Linked DNA regions of Homo sapiens. The protein of the gene in region 1 interacts with the protein of each later gene in a pairwise test. Each region holds a gene or a part of one and is shown on either strand. Other genes may lie near its edges.

Region 1 (3,653 bases):
ATACGGCCAGGCGCGGTGGCTCATGCCTGTAATCCCAGCACTTTGGGAGGCCGAGGTGGGCAGATCATGAGGTCAGGAGATCAAGGCCATCCTGGCTAACACGATGAAACCCCGTCTCTACTAAAAATACAAAAAATTAGCTGGGCATGATGGCAGGCGCCTGTAGTCCCAGCTACTCGGGAGGCTGAGGCAGGAGAATGGTGTGAACCCGGGAGGTGGAGCTTGCAGTGAGCTGAGATCGTGCCACTGCACTCCAGCCTGGGTGACAGACCGAGACTCCATCTCAAAAAAAAAAAAAAAAAAAAAAAAAAATTGTAAATTTTTTTTAACGTATGGAGCACCCATATATAAAGCAAGTATTAGAGCTAGAAGGAGATAAGAGAATCCAATACAGTAATAGTTGGAGACTTTAAAACCCCACTTTCAGCACTGGACAGATCTTCCAGAGAGAAAATCAATAAAGAAACATCAGACTTAATCTGCACTATAGAAAAAATGGACCTAATAGATATTTACAGAACTTTTCATCCAATGGCCACAGAATACACATTGTTCTCAGCATATGGATCATTGTCAAGGATAAACCATGTTAGGTTACAAAACAACTCTTAAAACATATTCAAAAATTTGAAATAATTAATATCAAACATCGTCTCTGACCACAATAGAATAAAACTAGAAATCAACAACAAGAGGAATTTTGGAAACCATAGAAACACATGGAAATTAAACAATATGCCCCTGAATGACCAGTGGGTCAATGAAGAAATTGAGAGAAACTGAAAAATTTCTTGAAATAAATGATAATGGAAACACAACATGCCAAAACCTATAGGACACAGTGAAAGCAGTATTAAGAGGGAAGTTTATAGTTACAAGTGCCTACATAAAAAAAAGAAGAGAGGCCGGGTGTGGTGGCCCATGTGTATAATTCCAGCACTCTGCGAGGCTGAGGCAGATGAATCACTTGAGCTCCAGAGTTCTAGACCAGCCTGGGCAGTATGGTGAAACCCTGTCTCTACCAAAAATACACAAAAATTAGCCAGGTGTGGTGGTGCATGTTTGTGATCCCAGCTTCTCAGGAGTCTGAGGCAGGAGGATCACTTGAGCCCAGGAGGCAGAAGTTGCAGTGAGTAGAGATTATCACGCCAGTGCAGTTCAGCCTGGAGAACATAGTAAGACCCTGTCTCTTAAAGAAAAGAAGAAAAAAAAAGTCATCTGAAATAAATAACTTAATGATGCGTCATAAAGAACTAGAAAAGTAAGAGTAAACTTAACCCAAAATTAGTAGAAGAAAGGAAATAATAAATATCAGATCAGAAAGAAATGAAATTGAAATGAAGAAAACAATACAAAATGTCAATGAACAAAAAGTTGGGTTTTAGAAAAGATAAAACTGACAAACCTTTAGCCAGACTAAGAAAAAGAGAGAAGTCCCAAGTAAATAAAACTAGAGATGTAAAAGGAAACATTACAACCAATACTGCAGAAATTTAAAGGATCATCAGTGGCTACTATGAGCAAGTATATGCCAATAAATTGGAAAATCTAGAAGAAATGGATAAATTCCTATATACAAACAACCTATCCGATTGAACCATGAAGAAATCCAAAACCTGAGAAGACCAATAATAAGTAATAAGATTGAAGTCATAATAAAAAGCCTCCCACTAAAGAAAAGCCCAGGACCCAATGGCTTCACTGCTGAATTCTATCAAAGAACTAATTCCAATCCTAACCAAACTATTCTAAAAAACAGAGGAGGGAATACTTCCAAACTCATTCTACAAGGCCAGTGTTACCCTAACACCAAACCAGACACATTAAAAACAAAAAACAACTACAGGCCAATCTCTGATGAATATTGATGCAAAAATTCTCAACAAAATACTAGCAAACTGAATTCAATAATACATTAGAAAGATAATCTATCATGACTAAGTGGGATTTATCCCAGGGATGCAAGGATCATTTAACATATGTAAATCAATCAGTGTGATAAATCACATCGACAGAATGAAGGACAAAAACTATGATCATTCAATTGATGCTAAACAAAGTATGTGATACAATTCAACATTCCTTCTGGCTAAATACCCTCAAAAAACTGGGTATAGAAGGAACATAGTCAACATAATAAAAGCCATATATGACAGACCTACAGCTAGTACCAGATTGAATGGGAAAAAGCTGAAATGCTTTACTCTCTAAGATTTGGAACACGACAAGGATGCCTACTTTTACCACTGCTATTCAACATAGCACTGGAAGTCTTCTCTAGAGCAATCAGACAAGAGAAAGAAATAAAGGGCATCCACATTGGAAAGGATCAAGTCAAATTATCCTTGCTTGCAGACGATATGATCTTACATTTAGGAAAACTTAAAGACTCTTACCAATAAACTATTAGAACTGATAAATAAGTTCAGTATATTTGCAGGACATAAAATCAACATACAAAACTCCATAACATTTCTATATGCAAACAGAACAATCTGGAAAAGAAATCAAGAAAGTAATCCTATTTACAATAGCTACAGATAAAATACCTAAGAATTAACTAAAGAAGTGAAAGATCTTTGCAATGAAAACTATAAAACACTGATACAAGAAATTGAAGAGGACACACACACACAAAATGGAATGATATTCCATATTCATGGACTGGAGGAATCAATATTGTTAAAATGCCCATACTATCCAAAGCAATTTACAGATTCAATGCAATCCCTATTAAAATGCCAAGGATATTCTTCACAGAAATAGAAAAAGCAATTCTAAAATTTATATGAAACCACAGAAGACCCAGAATAGTCAAAGCTATCCTAAGCAAAACAAAACAAAATGAAACAACAACAACAACAACAACAAAAAACTGGAGGAATCACATTGCCTGACTTTGAATTACACTATAGAGCTATAGTAACCAAAACAGCATAGTTCTGGCATAAAAGCAGACATGTAGACCAATGGAACAGAAGAGTGAACCCAGAAACCCAATAGTGAACCCACACACCTACAGTAAACTCATTTTCACCAAAGATGCCAGGAACATACATTGGGGAAAAGACAGTCTCTTCAACAAATGGTGCTGGGAAAACTGAATATCCGTATGCAGAAGAATGAATGAAAGTAGACCCCTATCTCTCACTATATACAAAATCAAGTCAAAATGGATTAATGACTTAAATCTAAGACCTCAAATTATGAAACAACTACAAGAAAACATTGGGGAAACTCTCTGGGACGTTGGAGTGGGCAAAGATTTCTTGAGTACCCCACAAACACAGGCAACCAAAGCAAAAATGGACAAACGGGATCACATCAAGTTAAAAAGCTCCTGCACAGCCAAGGAAAGAGGCCACCCACAGAATGGAAAAACAAATTTGCAAACTACCCATGTGACAAGGGATTAAAAACCAGAATATATAAGGAGTTCAAACAACTCTACAGGGAAAAAAAGTCTAATAATCAGATTAAAAATGGGCAAAAATCTGAACAGATGTTTCTTTAAAGGCATGCGAATGGCAAACAGGTATATGAAAAGGTGCTCAACATCATTGATAAGAGAATTATAAATCAAAACTACAATGAGATATTATCTCACTTCAATTTGAATGGCTTTTATCCAAAAAACAAGCAATAAATGCTGA
Region 2 (4,410 bases), on another chromosome or scaffold:
ATGCCACTGCACTCCAGTCTGGTGACAGAGCGAGACTCTGTCTAAAAAAAAAAAAAAAAAAAAAAAAAGATTCTAAGATGCTTAGCTTGGCTTCTGGTCCCAGCTTCAACTGCAGATTTGAAGAGAGGCTAGGACCTGGTCCCTGCCTTTTGGGTACAAGGAGTAATTTTCAGAGGAAAGGGAGGAACAGTGATCTGAGCATAGTCCCCTCTTTACCCAGCCTTGGACGCTGCCCAGACGGCCTTGAGAAGGCATCTAATGTGATACCTCTGCTACACTGTAGCACTAGCCAGTGGGTGCCTCCTGGGCAACTGTTCCAGTGGAAACATTGCTGCTATTGCTTTTCTTTCTTCCTGTACCTATAACCAGTTGGGATTCCCAGGTGGCCTGTCCCATTTCTGTGTCCTGACCCAAGGCTGAGATAATGGCTCTGGCTAAGAATACAATGCATGCAAAGTCTGGGCTTTCTCCTGAGCCCTGTCCCCAGATTCCCTCACCCCACCTTAACTGAGTTTTTGCTACCTTACCCCCAAGGGTTCTTTCTCCCTTGTCCTTCCCTGCTTTTAAAATTGTTCATGTTGGGCCAGGCGTGGTGGCTCACACCTGTAATCCCAGCACTTTGGGAGGCAGAGGCAGGCGGATCACAAGGTCAGGAGTTCAAGACCAGCCTGGCCAATATGGTGGAAACCCGTCTCTACTAAAAATACAAAAATTAGCCAGGCATGGTGGCAGGCACCTGTAGTCCCAGCTACTTGGGAGGCTGAGGCAGGAGAATCGCTTGAACCCGGGAGGCAGAGGTTGCAGTGAGCTGAGATGGTGCCACCACACTCCAGCCTGGGTGACAGAGTGAGACTCCGTCTCAAAAAAAAAAAAAAAAAAAATTGTTCATGTTAGTCGGGCACAGTGGCTCATGCCTGTAATCCCACCACCCTGGGAGGCTGAGGTAGGCAGATCACTTGAACTCAGGAGATTAAGACCAGCCTGAGCCTGGGCAACATGGCAAAACCCCAAAACCCCATCTCTACAAAAATTAGCCAGACGTGGTGGCACACACCTGTAGTCCCAGCTACTCAGGAGGCTGAGGCAGGAGGATTGCTTGAGCCCAAGATGTTGAGGATGCAGTGAGCCGTGATTGCACCACTGCACTCCAGCCTGGATGACAGAGTAAGACCCTGGCTCAAAAAATAAAAAATAGTTCAACTGTTCATGTCTCCTTGGTCTTCAGGCCCAATGCCACAAAAACCGGGGCAAAGGCAGTTCATCATCAGTTTCCATTCCCTCATCCCTTTGCTCTGTCTGTGTGATTATATATGTATCAAGGAGTAGTGGTTCTGGCTGACACCAAGACTCACCAGGGTTGTACAGGGCACTGGGGCTACGGTGCCTGCTCTGGGCAGGATGTGGGCATGAGCATCAAAGGGCAGCTCACTGACCATGCAGGAATCAGGCACCATAAATGCTGGGCTCCACTGATCTGGAGTAGAAAACAGGTAGCTGGGAGAAAGGAGACTTAGGAACACCCTGACAGCCGCAGGGCCTGGGTAGTGGCACAGGTTGGGTAAACCCCCTTAACCCCATGGTTAGGGCCAGTCCCGAAGGGCCATTTCCCCCTTCCCACAAAGAACACTGACCTAGCTGGATGGAGATAAGGCCTACATTTGGCCCAGTTTCCCCCTGCATCCTCTCCAGGGCCCCTGCCTCATAGACAACCTCATAGAGCATAGGAGAACTGGTTGCCCTGGGGGCAGGGGGACTGTCTGGATGGCAGGGGTCCTCAGAGATGCCACTGTCACTGCCAGGAGATGCTTCTGAGCAGTACACCTCATTGGGATCAATGAAAAGCTTCAAGAAATCTTCAGGCTCACTCTCTTGAAGGCCCTACAGTAGGAAAAGGTTATATATATGTGCAGGGAAGAATTTTGGAAGTCCTCCCTGACTTATGCTTCATTTTCAGTCCTTTCACTTCTTGGGCATGGAGACAGTTATTATACAACTTACGTCTATTTTGGGGGTGGTCTGTTTTCAGACCTGTCTCCAAGTGGGAGCTGAAGCCTCTTATCACAGAGTTGTGTCTCAACCCCACCCCCACTCCCACTCGTCACACTCACACAGCCACGGTCCCCACCGGACTTCCAGCCTTGCAGTCCCTGTTCCTGTAGCCTAGTTACCGGAACCTCTGGAGGGGGGCAGTGGAGTCCCAGCTCCAGGACGGATCCTGTCGAGAAGATATCCTCTGGGGGCTCCAGCCACGCGTCCAGCAGGTCAGGGATTCCGAGATCCATGCTTCTGCAGGAAGGCGTGTGGGACGGAGGGTTGCAGAAACGGAATGATGGCTGCTTACTACCCCCTACAGTTTCTGGGCTCCTCTGCTCCCTTTTCCATTATCCCCGCCCCCCCACTCCTTCCTCACTAGCAAGCCCCCTCACCTGTCCCCTCGATATTTCACCTTCAGCCCTATCCCTCAGGTTTAGACAAAGAGGCCCCCCCCAAGCATTACCTGTTCTGAAGAGCCCAGCCCTGTCAAGCCAGCATAGCCCGTTGACCTCCCCAAACACTACACCTTTTCTTTCTTCCAGGATCTCGTATCCTGGACCTGCCAGCCAAACCCCGCCCCCAGCCTTACACTACAAAAGTGGATGCCACCTTGCCAGGAGCCACGGTAGGGCCGCTGTATCTGGGAGTAGGGGACTAAGAGTCTGAGGGTCCACAAACGGAATTTAAGAAGTAGGTAGCCGCGCCCTTTCTGCTGCAGTTTTCTCTTAGCTATAGTAAATCTTCCTGAGGGTTTGGTGTCTCCTAGCTGAAGAACAGAAAAGGCTGTGACTGGAGCACAGGACTCCTGAATGCCTGTTCTGTAGCCCTCGCTTTTGCAAGAGGGAGATCATGGCAGGGTTGTAAACAAAGGCGGAAAGAGTCAAGAGACCTGCGAATTTACTAGGGCATCCCCTCGCCCACCGCGTGGCGCTCTTCCCAAAGCTGAGTCCTGATTGGAAGCTGAAGACTTAGGTTTCGGAGGGGCAGGACATCGAGCCAATGGCACACTACCCTCTCAAGGCCGCCTCTTCCGTAACTGGTCGGAGACAGTTTGGCTGTTCAGGAGAGTCAGGCCAATGGGGCCGCAGTTCTTTCTTTTTTTTTTCTTTATTCTTATTTTTGGAGACAGGGTCTCGCTCTGTTGCCCAGGCTGGAGTGCGGTGGTGCGATCACGGTTCCATGCAGCCCCCGACCTCCCGGGCTCAGGTGATTCTCCCGCCTCAGCACCGCGAGCAGCTAGGACCACAGGCGCGAGCCACTGCGTCCGGCCGGCGGGACTTATTTGTCAGGCGGGGATTGGGTTCCGCCAGCCTAAAGGGAGGGGTAAGCGCCAGAATATGAATCGCCGGGAAGCTGGGAGAAAGCTCCGGGAAACCCTGAGCAGCCAGGTTTGTCTTCGCGCGCCACGTGACTCGGAAGCTCCGGTTTCACCCAGGCGGGGAGTCAACAGCCCGCTGACCCCAGTGGAGCGGTGATCCTCGCTCGGCAGGCGGCAGGAGCGCGATGGCGGGTTTCCCCGTCCGCAAGCCGAGCAGTGTGGCGTTAATGGAGAACAGCAGCTGTGCGCACACGCTCGCTGCACGCTGCTCATTCACGGAGGGACACGGGGCAGGAAAACTGCAACAAGTTAAAAAGCCTTTTGCGTTTGTTGTCTTATTGTTTGCATACAGTTACCGGGAACATTATGTCCCACACTTGTATAATTTACAAAACGTTTTCATAAAAATTGTTCTCTTCCTTAATCCATAACAGTTCTGAGGCACACACGGCGGGTAATATTTTGCAAATTTTACCTATGAGGAGGCAGATCCATGACTAGAAAGTAGTAATACCAAAACTCAGGGTTGATTGATTATTTTTATTTTTTTGCCTTGGTCTAATGTCTGATGGTCCAGGAATTCACTTCAAGTAAAACAATGGAGGTAAACTGATACAGGTATGGTTTTCAGTAGTATTTCAGAAAAGGGTAGCTGGGTGAGTAAAACAGTAGTTTGGAGTGTGAATCCCAGAACTCAAACTGCTACTAATTATCCTTATGAAGATTTGAACGGGCTAAGGGTAAAAACGGGAACAGGGTCTAGTCAGGCATTTCCATGTTACTCATATAATTCTTACAGCAGATGGAGCTGACAAGTTTGTTTGTTTGTTTTTCTTTTGCTCTGTGGCCCAGGCTGGAGTGCAGAGGCTCGATCTCGGCTCACTGCAAGCTCCGCCTCCCGGGTTCACGCCATTCTCCTGCCTCAGCCTCCCTAGTAGCTGGGACTACAGGCGCCCAGCTAATTTTTTTGTATTTTTAGTAGAGACAGGGTTTCACCGTGTTAGCCAGGGTGGTCTCGATCTGACCTCGTGATCCGTCCACCTCGGCCTCCCAATGTG
Region 3 (2,906 bases), on another chromosome or scaffold:
TAAAAATCAGTATGAACTTGGCGGGCGTGGTGGCTCACGCCTGTAATCCCAGCACTTTGGGAGGAGGAGGCAGGCGGATGGTGAGGTCAGGAGTTTGAGACCAGCCTGGCCAATATAGTGAAACCCCGTCTCTACTAAAAATACAAAAATTAGCCGGGCATGGTGGCGTGTACCTGTATTCCCAGCTACTCAGGAGGCTGAGGCAGGAGAATCACTTGAACTTGGGAGGTGGAGGTTGCAGTGAGCCAAGATAGCATCACTGCACTCCAGCCCGCGCAACAGAGCGAGACTCCGTGTGAAAAAAAAAAAAAAATCAGTATGAACAGTCATATATAAAAATATATAAATTATATGATGATTTATGTAAGTGTTTCCTCAGATTGTGGCAGTGTTTTCACAGGTATATATGTATATCACAGGTATATATGTGAAAACCTTCAAAACGTTCACTTTAAATGGATGCATTTTGCATATAAATGACATAAAGTTAATATAAGCAAGCATTTTCATTGTCTTTAAATAGATACTCTTACGGTGATTGAAACAGGTTATTTTCTATAACTGGGATTAATTTTATTCTATTATTTCTCTTTTTTCACAGAAAATGTTACTGTAAGCTGGGCGTGGTGGTTCATGCCTGTAATCCCGGCACTTTGGGAGGCTGAGGCAGGCAGATCACTTGAGGTTAGGAGTTCAAGACCAGTCTTGACAACATGGTGAAACCCCGTCTCTACTAAAAACACAAAAATTAGCTGAGTGTAGTGGCGCATGCCTGTAATTCCAGCTACTTGGGAGGCTGAGGCAGGAGAAGTGCTTGAACCCAGAGGGTGGAGGCTGCAGTGAGCTGAGATCATGCCAACTGTACTCCAGCCTGGGTGACAGGGCAGACTTTGTCTCAAAAAAAAAAAAAAAAAGTTACTGTAAAAATCTACCTGATACACTAGATCTCATTCATCCATGTGTTCCACAACACAGTACTTTACTGAGATGTATGAGATCTTAGGTTTACTGAGCACCTGCTATTTAATACACTGGGCACTGTGCGTGGCACTGGTTATTTGCCTAATTTAACACACCTAGTATATTGCAGACCCTAATTTGAAGTCGTATTTGTATGATTTCAAAGTCAATGCTCTTATCAGTACATAAAGTAAGAAAGCTCTTAAAGATTCTTTCCTAGTGTGAAGGCAAAGCTTTCTCACTGTGAAACCTCATTAATTCAAAAAATGTGGTATGTAGTTTAAAAATCTGCAAATTACATAGAGGTTAATTCAAGCAACACTTAAATATTTGTGCAGTATCTAAAATGTACAGTGGAGATAATATAAAGAACAGAAACAGCCAATGTCCGCTGGAGAATATTTCTACAATAGGACTTTTTCTAGTTAAAAAAAAAAAAGTATAAAAAATATTTAGGTTCCAATGTGGGGGCGGGGGCATCAAGAAAAATAGCTAACGCATGCTGGGCTTCATACCTAGGTGATAGGTTGATAGGCGCAGCAAACCACCATGGCACATGTTTACCTATCTAACAAACCTGCACACGTACCCTGGAACTTAAAAGAAAATTTTTTTTAAAGTAAAATTTTAAGTTCCTTTCATGACATTTTTGCAATACCAAAAACGTCTTAAAAGTGAGAAAGAATTTGCAATAAAATTCTTCTAAAGTGAAAAAAAATTACACGGAGCTAAAGTTAAAATTAACCTTGCAGTTTACTCTCTAAAAATCCAATAGTCCTCATTTGATGATGCTGATATTGAAAAATACTTTCTCACATATCAATAGATGATTATATATGCATCACTATATGTCAGAAATATTTTTGCTCTTAGTTGCTTTACTGGTCTCTTCCTTCCTTCAGGATTGATAGGATATGAAATAAAGTTAAAATTATAAAATATAAAAAAAATAGGCTGGGCATGGTGGCTCATGCCTGTAATTCCAGCTGAGGCGGGAGGACCACTTGAGGTCAGGAGTTCAAGACCAGCCTGGGCAACATAGTTGGGACCCTATCCCTACCAAAAAATTTTAAAAATTAGCCAGGCATGGTGGTGCATGCCTGTAGCCCTAGCTACTCAGGAGACAGAGGTGGGCAGAACACTTGAGTCCAGAAGTTCAAGGCTGCAGTGAGCTATGATTACACCACTGCACTCCAGCCTGGGCAACAGAGCAAGAATCTCTTAAAAAATAAAAATAAAAAAACCCCACAAACATTATTAACCATGTTCCCCACAATCTAGGATTATCAACAAAGTTTCAGACAGAACAAAGGTTCAGAATACAACCATAAGATTTATTTTACCTGTTGAAATAGGTGGATGTCCTCTGTCTTTGTAACTGGCTCTGGCGTTTCCTTCAATTTCAGTTGTGGTTGCTTTTGCCAGTAATCTTTTGCATGCTGAATAAGATTGTGTTTTTCAGTAGCTGGAGGTATAACAATCCCCTGTGTTGCCAAGTACTTAAATATAACTTCTCGGTGGACTTTTCTACGCCTCAGAAGTTCTTCTGCACTTTGACTGTATGCTAATATTGCATGAACAGCATCTAGAAAGAAATTGCAAAGATTAATAAAAAATCATGAGGCACTTACAAATTTGTGCCAGGTGGGCAGAAACTCTATCAAATATGTTTATAAACTCTCGTCACAGCATTATTGCTGTTACATGATAGTCATCATTTTTAAAAAATAGGAAGTCCGTTGTCAGTTTTCTTTTAACATCTTTATGCCTTAAACTTCCCTTACCTAAAATCTCTTCTGTTCACTTCCCATAAGTGATAGTGAAAGTTTAGCATTTCCTCTTAAAGAATTACATTTTAAGAAAACATTTAAGTGAGAAAAAATATTTTTTCTAATAAGGCCAACAGTCCTAAATTCATGCACAACCTCTAAAAATAGGGACAATTA

Evidence for each region.
Region 2: the proteins of SLC19A3 (region 1) and CREB3L4 interact in a two-hybrid assay, tested with the Homo sapiens proteins (one large-scale study listed by BioGRID and IntAct).
Region 3: the proteins of SLC19A3 (region 1) and C3orf38 interact in a two-hybrid assay, tested with the Homo sapiens proteins (one large-scale study listed by BioGRID and IntAct).

The regions. Positions count from the first base shown.
Region 1 is NC_000002.12:227,690,422-227,694,074, forward strand, and holds part of SLC19A3 (thiamine transporter 2), read right to left. Parts: intron 1-3,653. UniProt on the Homo sapiens protein: Mediates high affinity thiamine uptake, probably via a proton anti-port mechanism. Has no folate transport activity. Mediates H(+)-dependent pyridoxine transport.
Region 2 is NC_000001.11:153,966,398-153,970,807, reverse strand, and holds the start of CREB3L4 (cyclic AMP-responsive element-binding protein 3-like protein 4), read right to left. Parts: upstream 2,907-4,410; 5' UTR 2,644-2,906; exon of another isoform or gene 2,624-2,643; intron 2,559-2,623; exon of another isoform or gene 2,427-2,558; intron 2,287-2,426; 5' UTR 2,283-2,286; coding exon 2,109-2,282; intron 1,879-2,108; coding exon 1,632-1,878; intron 1,475-1,631; coding exon 1,353-1,474; intron 1-1,352. UniProt on the Homo sapiens protein: Transcriptional activator that may play a role in the unfolded protein response. Binds to the UPR element (UPRE) but not to CRE element.
Region 3 is NC_000003.12:88,152,869-88,155,774, reverse strand, and holds part of C3orf38 (uncharacterized protein C3orf38), read right to left. Parts: intron 2,546-2,906; coding exon 2,304-2,545; intron 1-2,303.